Linked DNA regions of Homo sapiens: region 2 is linked to region 1. Evidence: fine-mapped expression QTL. A gene starts in region 1. The other region holds a variant in brackets. All regions are shown on one strand. Distances are between the middles of the regions.

The links. PIP is the estimated chance that this variant, and not a neighbour inherited with it, causes the effect.
Region 2: its variant is the best candidate, but not a certain one, in a credible set for the expression of GRAMD2B in tibial nerve (GTEx, PIP 0.82).

What each region holds. Positions count from the first base shown.
Region 1 is chr5:126,420,247-126,425,630 of GRCh38, forward strand. It overlaps GRAMD2B (GRAM domain containing 2B), which reads left to right and starts at 3,163. Exons shown (of 14, transcript NM_023927.4): 1 at 3,163-3,443. The coding sequence starts at 3,361. RefSeq lists a silencer at 3,138-3,267.
Region 2 is chr5:126,486,820-126,492,167 of GRCh38, forward strand. It overlaps GRAMD2B (GRAM domain containing 2B), which reads left to right. Exons shown (of 14, transcript NM_023927.4): 12 at 54-158; 13 at 1,980-2,073. Among named protein-coding and RNA genes, the nearest start is that of GRAMD2B, 66 kb to the left of the region's middle. The variant A/G (reference allele first, on the strand shown) is at 3,313.

The DNA.
Region 1 (5,384 bases):
AATCTTACATCTCTATTTTGTCACATGGCAATGACATTTCCTTTATTGTTTATCTGCCGTGCCTCTTGAATACTATATTCCATATATTACTGTAGAATAGCCCCAAGAATAAACAAATTAGGCAGTTGTTTAACAATGCCTTTTAAACGTAAGCAAACATCAGTAGGTAAAATATTGTAGCTTACTTGCTCCTTTCTAATTCTTCCACTCTAGGAAAAGACTGATATTTTCCCTACCAGCCCTGCCTTCCACTTCAACCTCACCTGCTCCTTCTCACTTAAAACCACACCATTGGAAGTCCTTATACCATGCACTAAAGAACTTTAAGCTATTTTAGGGTAACTGAGTGCTCTTTATTTGAGCCATAAGCCCATGCTAAGACTGCTTTGAATACTTGCCCTTACTCATGCATTAAAAGAGGGCTGACCATGATTTCTCAAAAGGGTAAACATAGACTACCATATGACCCAGCAAGTCTACTCCTAGGTATATATCCAAAAGAAATGAAATCAGGGACTCAGACAAACATTTGCACACCCATGTTCATAGCAGCATCATTCACAATAGACAAAAGCTAGAAACAACCCAAGGGTCCATCAACAGATAAACGGGCAACCCAAATGTGGTATATACATGCAATGGAATATCATCCAGCCAAAAAAAAATGAAATTTGGATATATGCTATGACATGGATTGACCTTGAAAACATTACACTGAGTGAAACAAGCCAGACACAAAAGGAAAAATATTGTATGATTCCACTAATGTGAGGTACCTAAAACAGACAAATTTATAGAGACAGAAAGTAAACTAGAGGCTACCAGAGGCTGGGAGGAGGTGAGAAAGAAAGAGTTATTGTTTAATGTATTTAATGGGAGTTTATGCCAAGGATGATAAAAAAAAGTTTTGGGTACAGATAAGTGGTGATAGTTAAATAACATTGTGAAAGTGTTGAATGCCACTGAATTATACACTTATTAAAATGATAAATAGTAATGTTATGTATATTTTACCACAATAAATAAATTACTTAGCGGGGAAAAGTCAGTCTGATCTGAGCTCTGTAATGAGAAGTTGGAGTGCACCTGAGATCTGAGAGTCCTCATCCAGAGTTTGGGAAATTGACAACCTCATCTCTGTTCCAAACCTATCCCTATTCTGAGGAGGGTGGGGATCTAGAGGTGAAGGCATCAGGAATGTCCCCAGGAAGAGGCAACTATGGGCACCAAGGAGACAGCCTTCAAGCTTTCAGGTCACCCAGAGTTTTCCCCATCCCACCTAGCACAGCTCCTATAGCAAAGCAGTCAGTGGTCAGGAAAGAAAAAGAGAGAGAGGCCTGACTAAGCCAACTCTTCTGGAATTTATGTAAGCTTTTTCTTTTACTTATTTTTCAAATGTCACAAACATCAATTTTGGAGCAAGCAGGCTACAAAAAGATGCTTTTGTTCTCTCAGCCTAATGATATATATGTAAAAAGAGAAGGAATAAGAAAACTTTGGAAAGAACTTGCACCTCCAAAATGTTTGAAGTTATTTAGAAGGTTAGGTGTTTTACACACACATACACCCTACAAACTACATACATACATGTACATACTATGGTTGTATAGTCTTTGTAATACTCTTAAATCTAAACTTTATTTTAAGAGAAAAATGAAGGACTTGCAGCCCCAGAACATAGTTAGTCGTTTTTTCCCAGGCATGTCATGCTCTACTGTTGCCACTTGTAATTGTTTTGAAGTCAAGTCAGGCTTCCAATAATAACGTTTATATTAATTATTCTAATTGTCAACTACTCCATTGCAAATTAGAAAACCACCAATACAAATGTCATTTGCTATAACAAGTCAATGTTTATACAAGCTTGCCCAACCTGCAGCCCAGAACAGCTGTGAATATAGCCCAATACAAATTCATAAACTGTCTTATAACATGGTGACATTTATGCACGGATTTTTTTTTTTTTTTTGAGACAGGGTCTCACTCTGTTGCCCAGACTGGAGTGCAGTGGTGCATCTTGGCCCACCACAACCTCCATCTCCCAGGCTCAAGTGATTCTCCTGCCTCAGCCTCCCAAATAGCTGGGATTACAAGCGCCTGCGCCACCTCACCCAGCTAATTTTTGTATTTTTAGTAGAGATGGGGTTTCACTAGGTTGGCCATGCTAGTCTCGAACTCCTGACCTCAAATGATCCACCCGCCTCGGCCTCCCAAACTGCTGGGATTACAGGCGTAAGCCACCGTGCCTGGCCCCTGCACAGACCTTTTTTAAAGCTCATCATCTATCCTTAGTGTTAGTATATTTTATGTGTGGCCCAAGACAGTTCGTCTTCTTCCAATGTGACCCAGGGAAGCCAAAAGATTGGACACCCCTGATTGAGAACAATGCCTGGAACTTTGTAGCTCTCAAAAGTTTGTTCAATGAATGAATGAGTGAATGCTTCCAATACAAAACCTTAGAACAGGCAAGTCAAAATGTCACCAAAAGGTGGGAAGAAGAGGCATTCACGGTACTGGTTGAGTGCATAGTAAATAAGGTACTTGCACAACTATGGGCAACAAAGAGACGGCTTGGGAATTATCAAACACCAATTTTGATTTTGATGAGAACAGTCATAACCCAATATTTGAAGATTTTGATGGTTGCTTCTTCTTTGCCCCTCTAACCACCCCCCCCACCCCAGAACGATGAAGGGTTAACCAAAACACCACCAAAGGCAACTACTTATTACCTTTGTTATTCCCACATAAAAAATTGAGCAGACCTATTGTTTAAGCAGAAGAGGCAGTCCCTCAATGAAGCAATATCCTGTTTGAATAATTTAGGATGGGGCATAGGCCAGCCCACACAGCGCATTTGTGTGACAGGGCGTCCCACTCAGACGTCTCCATTTCCGGTATCTAGAGCCGGCTGCCCTCTAAAAATCCCCCTGTTACAGTCGGGATAGAAAACAAAAAGCTTAATTTACCAGGAGGCTAAACAGATTGTGCCTTCTTAGGCAAATGTTCCACCTGCTTGGCCAATTAGCTTCCTCTCCCGAAAGACTCGTTCAACAGGTTTCCTTTTTCTCTTCTCTGCCTCCTGGGTTGGGGAAAGAGGCTGTCACTTCGCTTCGACCCTCCCCTTCCCTCCCTCTCGGCTTTTCCACAGTGGGTCGGACCAATCGCGCCCGCTCCGACGTGTCCAGGTCCGCGGCCCCGGGAGCTTGGCGCGGCCCGGCCTGGATGCGCTGGGCGGAGGGTGCAGGGGAGGGCACGGCGCCGCTTGCTTGGCCTGCGCACCCGGACCTAGAAGCCGGGACGAGCCGGGGCAGAGCCAGGCGCGCGGAAGTCTGAAGGTGCCCTCCAGACACGGCCCCGATGACTGAACTACAGCAAGATGTGGAAGACACAAAGCCTGCGAAAGTGCTCGGGAAGAGGGAGAGCAAACTTGGCTCAGCCCAGTGAGTATTCTCAGCTGGGACCCATCCAAGGAGGTGGGAGGAGCGCAGCCTAAACTTCTCTGCCCCGGGACGCATTTTGGGTGGATGCGGATTTCTGGAGCTCCTATATGGACAATCTTGTGGCGCGCTCTCTCTGTCTCTCACTCTCTCTCTCTGTCTAGATATTCAGTTAAGGAGATGGTTTAGATTGATTGAAAAGTCTACTGTAGGATTTAAACAAATTCTCTTAATTCAAAACTCACTGGATGTTGGGAAAATAATTTTGTAGAAAATAAGCCTAACCACATTGAAGCTCAAAGTCCCAACACAGCCCTTCGTTTAGAATGACCATTTTCACAAATTCATTTTAGTTCAGCAAATAATTGAGTATCTACTTGTTCAATAACGATGGGCAATACAAGGATAAATGTTATTTTGGATCTGCCCTTCTGGAACTTCAAGAGCAGAGTGGGGATGGGGGAGGCACAAATGAATATTACTGTACTTCAAGGGACTTTGGTGACCATTGCCACATTAAACACACAGACAAGGTATGATAAAGAGTTTAGCCTATAATTGAGTCTTCTCTACTTTTAAAATATTTATCTATTTTGCAGTCTTTGGTAAAATTGGTTTGGGAGGAGAGGTTGTTTTTTTCCTACAAAGTGGTATTTTCTAAGCCTACTGAAGTCACTTCTAATTCAGTCTATGATTTTAGACACTAACCCTTCTGAGCTCTAAAACTCTTGTTCTGGTATCAGGATATGAGTAATTTAGGAAGGAGGGATATGTATTATCATAAGGTTATACTGATGTGATAATTCCACTTTGAAATCATTTTAAGTTGCCAAATTTTTGTGCTTAGAAACCCGGTCTAACTTCTGTTTTGAACTTCATAACTTACATTAATTATCACTAGGCTCAAAGTCTTGTTGAAGTCTGGGTGTCCCCATGGACATTTCTTCTAAGAGGATTAGAATGACTTGCTCCTCACAATTTCCCTGCGTCTGTAACTGCACCCATGTAGACCTCATCACCTAGAGCCTTAGCCTCCTAAATAATAGTAGCTGGCACTTACTGAGAATGCTTACTATGTGACAGGGAGTGTGCTCAATACTTTAAATGCATTCTCACAAAGAATGAGGCAGGTGCTATTATTTCCATGTTGCAGATAAAAGCACTGAAGCTCTGAGAAGCTAAGCAGCTAGGCAGAGTCACAAAGTTAATAAAAGAGCAGCCAGGATTCAAGCCCAGGTCTCCTAACTTTACAGCATGAACTTAGAACCACTATGCTGTACACTGGTTCCTCTGTTCCAGAATCTATGATGGCCTTCCATGGCCTACTCTTAAAAATAGGCTTCTCTGCCAAGATTTTAAGATCCTTCATGATCTGGACCCACACAGACCATTGCAACCTCACTTCCTAATACTAGTCAGCATGCACATCTTTTATAGCCAAACAATCATACTAGCAGCCCTATACTTAAAGGAGTGATATGCAGCACTCCCATGTTCATTGCACATTACTCACAATAGCCAAGATATGAAATCAACCTAAGTGTCCATCAACAGATGAATGGATAAGAAAATGTGCTATATACACAAGATACGAAATCAATCTAAGTGTCTATCAATGGATAAAGGGATAAGAAAATGTGGTATATATACACAATATTATTCAGCCTTTAAAAAGAAAGATCATTTGTGACATGGATGAACCTAGAGGACGTATGTTAGACAAAATAAGCCAGGAATAGAAAAACAAACACTGCATGTTCTCACTTAAGTGTGACATCTGAAAAAGTTGACTCAGGCCAGGCAGGGACTGTGGCTCATGCCCATAATCCCAACACTTTGGGAGGCCGAGGCTGGAGGATCACTTGAGCCCAGGAATTTAAAACCAGCCTGGGCAACAAAGTGAGACCCTGTCTCTACAGACAAAAAAAAATAAGTTAAGCATGA
Region 2 (5,348 bases), 67 kb after region 1:
CATCAGATCCTGGCCGTTAACCTAACGAAAGTTTCTCTTTCATCCGTTTCCAGTGTCTGTGCACTAATCATCTCGACCTTCTACATGAGATACAGAATTAATACTCTGGAGGAGCAGCTGGGGTTACTAACCTCCATTGTGGACACCCATAATACTGAGTAAGACGATTGCCTCTAGCTGTCATCTGCTTGCCATTCTGCTTAATATAATAATTGACCTGAACTTAGCATCCTTCTTAGTAAACATTAATTGGAGATACATTCTGTATGTGACATTTTGTTAAGTGTATATGTGGAAAGTAAAAAGGTAGGAGGGTCTAGAAATGAATGACCTAACCCTGTACTATTTTGGAGTTGTGGTAATGTTGCTAGTAATAAGGCAAGAAACAAGCCTAATTTTACATTATCTTGCTCGAATATGCTAAGATGCAGTTGTGACCTTGCCCCATTTATTAAACTACACAAGTTTACCTTAGTAAAATGGCAATAAATCAAGACACTCAGAGAAAGAAGCAATTCAAGAAACTCAGCACATTTTATCATGTATAACTTTTTATATTAACTCACTTATTTGCAAAACTCTTGACCACTGTCAAGATCAATGTGACTAGTAATTAATTGAATGTGTCTGTGAAGATTTTCCATCAGTCTTTTTTTTAACATGCCTGGCCTAATTAAACCTTTTCAGACATAGAGCTCTTTTCTTTAAACCTATTTACAAGAAGCTTTTGACACATTGCCTAAAAAGTGAAATAATTTATGCCATGTTAGAAAGTGTACATTTAGCCCAAGTTTTTGAAGTAGAGATATTTCCTGACAGAGTATTCACCACATGCTGAAGGCTCTATTAGAATGGATACATACACATACAAATACAGATGATTTTTCCTCATTATATTTTCACCATAACCTTAGAATAGAACTGTTCCCATTTTACAGATGAAGAAACTGAGACTCAGAGTAATAATTAGTTTAATGTCTTACAGTTTGCAGATTCAGCTGCAGGTCTATATAACTACAAAGACCATGGGCTCCTCAGTCTACCAGTGGCTCTCAAATTTTAATTTGCATCAGAATTATCTAGAATTGTTTAAACAGATTTCAGGGCTCATCTCCAGAGTGCCTGATATAGTAGGTCTGGGATGAGGCCTGAGAATTTGCATTTCCAGCAAGTTCCCAGGTGGTGCTGATGGCAATGGTCTGAGCTCTATACTTTGAGAAATACTGTGTTATACCATTCTAGGACCTTTCTTTACTCCATAGGAATTACCTTTAGGTGGCTTACATGTATGCAGGCATACAGGTTATTTTTGACCCATAAATATACACTTGAACTAATAAAATACAAAAGCCTAATAAACAGTTTGGTATGGATTCATACTCTGCCCTTAGTTTCTCCCATCTTGTTCAAAAAGTTAATATTGGCATAGAGATAAGAAGTGACTCCAGGCCAGGCACAGTGGCTCACGCCTGATTATGAGACAAGGGCAATTATAGTTGTATGATAAATCTCAAAGAAGAAACTACAAAAGTCTCGTGTTTCAAGGGACATTTGATTAACTAGATAAGGACATTCCTAAACTTGTAAAGTTCTAGTATAAATAGCTCAAAAGTACAATAATTCTTGTAAGTTTATGCTCTGGTGGAGACAGAAAGGATATTAGGGGTTAATAAAAGGGTTCTAAGAAACCACGTGCTTGAAAATAATTGCCTGATTTTTGTTTAGAAGCCGAAACACACCATATCCACTTAAACAAAAATAGCTTAAGAGATTTCCCGCTGAGCTTTTAAGAATTAGTTCCCTAAACATCTAGCCTGGAGTTGCGGATTACTGCAGGGCTTTGTCTAATATTAACAAATGAAATGTTCATTCTCTTCTATTATAAACCAATTTTCTGTTCAAATAAATTTTAAATGTGTTCATTCCACTTCTTTCCTTGTCATCCCTGCCCATAATAATTTTTCTCTTTTTTCTTACAGACAGGCAGCACCATCTGGCCTGAGGTCACAAGTACAATTCAATGTGGAGGTTCTCTGTCAAGAGCTTACAGCTAACATAGTGAAATTAGAAAAGGTGACCTATTTCTTTCCTGTGTATGGGGGCAGTCACAGTAGTGCCTGTTGGTTGCCCTAGGTCAGGTCAGGGATTACACACTCAGACGCCGTTAGTGTGCCGCAATAAACCTACATGATCAACCCTGGCTAGGGGCTTTTTATAGTAAATGTGGAAGAATATTTTTTATTTCCACAAAGAAATAGGTCTTAATCTCATTTTCCTTGAAATACATAGTCTTGTAGGTCTTTTGTTCTTCCTCCTTGATTAGACATATTACTTAATAGCACAGGGCCCAGTGGTAAGTGACTACTGACATCGGAGCTTAATGTAGGGACATAGTAGGGAGTGAACTGGAGACCAACCACTGGCTTGGCCAGAAAGTACAGCCCCAACTCCACCAAGGCTGACTGTTCCCATAGGTAAAATATTGCATGTAAGTCCTATTAGAACCATGGAAGATAGACGTCATTGTTCCCTATCTGATAGGGGAAGAATCAAGAGTTTCAAATTAGCTTGCTGAAGGTGACACACCTAGAAAGGCAGCAGACGTGAGTCTGCTGAGAGAGCATTAGAAGAAAAATACATAAATAAAGTCAGCAGATCTGGAACCTGAACCAGGCCTGTCTGACTGCAAAGTTGTGCTTAGAAGCTCTCTGCTTTACTGTTCCTCAGAATTCAGCTTTAGGCTTTGTTGATAAGGCCACAGATGTACCTTTACCTCAAAGTATCTACAGTCCAAACAACGCTAGGGCAAAACTGTCCTTAGCCTGTGGCATTCTTAGAAGGCAGCAGGAGGGTGAGCTGGAGAAGAAGATAGGCATGCCAGAAATATCCCAGAAATAAACCTGATTTACATGTCTTATTTTCTTCTCCTTTATCTGATAACTACTTTGTTTTTACCCTAATCCTTCAGGAAAGGCTTAGAGAGAATTCAGTGTTCAATTACAACTGCTGTCACAAACGCCCAGTATCTGGTAGCTTTACATCATAGTACAGTTATGCTTACTTGGGAAGACATATTTCTTCATATTAAATACAAATTAGTAAAATTTCATATTAAATACAAATGAATAAAATTATCTTTGTTTTCCTACACTCAGTGTTAGTTAGTATTTAACAGCTAAAGTATTAAGAGCAAAGGAGTTTCCAAACTTATGTTCTAAACCAAGTCAGGTCAGAGAATTCATATTAAATCATTCTATTTATGGGCAAATGTAGAAAGTTCTTTACATCGAGAATCAACCTAGAGAAGGTATG[A/G]GTTAGCTTTCTTCCTTTCTAAAACATTAGTTTCTGAGAATTGAAGATAAACGATTTTTTTTAATGAAATGCTTACAAATGTTTGGCTTTCATGCAACCCAGAGAATGAAGTGGTATTAATTTTCAATTTTGTTCACTCTTACATACCAGTGATATTCTTTGGATTAGAAACACATGGGATCCTGCCGCCTTCTTTTGTGTTTCTTCCCACTCTCCCGCTGGGCCTGGCCGGGACACCACATTCTGTAACCAGGGAACTGAAAACAGAAGAGCTTGTTCACAGCAGGCAAACAGCCTCAGGTCTTGTGCAGGGTTCAGACAGCTTAGCAGGGAGGCCGGGGAGGTTTACAGGAGCACCAGTGGAGACTACCTTTGTCTCAAAGCAGAAACTGATTCAGTAAAAAGTGGATTTGGGGTCAAAATGCGCGTGTTGATGTTCTAAAAAGTTAGAAGTTGCACACATTGCTCAAAAGAATCTAAGTATTAAAAAAGAGGTACCAGGCCACACCCGTGCTCTTTTTGATTCATCTGCACCTTTCCTCAGAGGCAGCTGGGCACTAGCGCAGCACAGCCTGCCGGTGAAATAGCAGCTCCATGCTGTTGAAGGTCTTATACTCCATACCAGCAATTCCTTCTTCTCACCTTCGGGGGCCGGTGATGTCTAAGCCTCATGATCTTTCTCTGCTTATAACTTCCCTATTTCTGTTCATGGCATCACTGCTCTTTCAGTCATCCTCATTGGAAATCTAAGAATAATTTTTAACTCCCTCTTTCCACCTGCCACTGGTTGACTAGTTGGCAAATCCAGTGAAGTCTGTCTTCAAATGTCTCCTCAAAGTTTCTTCCCACAGGTACCATCCTAGTCCATTCAGCCTTCCCACTACCAGTCAGATAGTGTGAAGCTGGATCTCATTGTGGTTTTTGCTTGTATTTTCCTAATTATTACTGAGGCTGAACATCTCATATATTTACTGGCCATTTGGGTTTTCCTCTGTAAATTGCTTAATTCTCTCCTTTGTTTTAATTTTGGGTTTTGTGTGTGTGTCATCGTAGGTGTGTTTTGTGGATTTGGGATGTCAGTTCTTTGTTTTATTCCTTTTTCTACCTCCCACTCCTGTTTTTCCATTTATCTTTGGTCCTGAGGGATACATGAGGAAGAAACAAAGCAAGAAAGTTGGGGAAGAAAGCAATGTCTCTTACGGGAACTGAAGTAAACACTTATTTTCTTAGTTCTGGAAGTGGAATTAATGGTGGAACAGTATAGTAGAAAGAGCATAAATGTTGGAGTCAGGCCTTTGTTCTTATCCCTGCTCCACTGCTTACTACCCACATAACTCATCCTGCTACTTCAGCTCCCTGGCCCTTGGTTTCATGTGTAAAGCCTGTCTTTGTGTGGTGTTGTATGGCTCAGGAGCAGGCATGCCTTTGCTGGCACTTACATATCAGATCCCCTTCCTCCTCACTCACCTGAGAACACCCATAGGACATCACAGACTGTTCCTCTAAAAAACAATATGTTCTTTCTTTTCGTCTGCAAGGTTTCTACTCCCATCACAGGGCTGGTTGTTGAGAATTCCTTGCTCTGAATTCTTTTTTTTTTCCTTCTTTGTTTTTTTTCCCAAGACAGAGTCTTGCTCTGTCACCCAGGCTGGAGTGCAGTGCCGCAATCTTGGCTCACTGCAACCCCCACCTTCCAGGTTCAAGCAATTCTCCTGCCTCAGCCTCCCAAGTAGCTGGGATTACAGGCATCTGCCACCACACCCAGCTAATTTGTATATTTTTTAGTAGAGACAGAGTTTCACCATGTTGGCCAGGCTGGTCTGGAACTCCTGACCTCGTGATCTGCCCACTTCATCCTCCCAAAGTGCTGGGATTACAGGCACAAGCCACAGCACCCGGCTTCTATGAATTCTTACAAGTTCCTTTATTCAACGGTCATTTACTGAGAACATTTTTGATGTCCAACATCGGACCCGTCTTAAGATCCAAACATCTGACGTGGTTGGTCTCTGTCCCTGTGAAATCCACAACCTTCT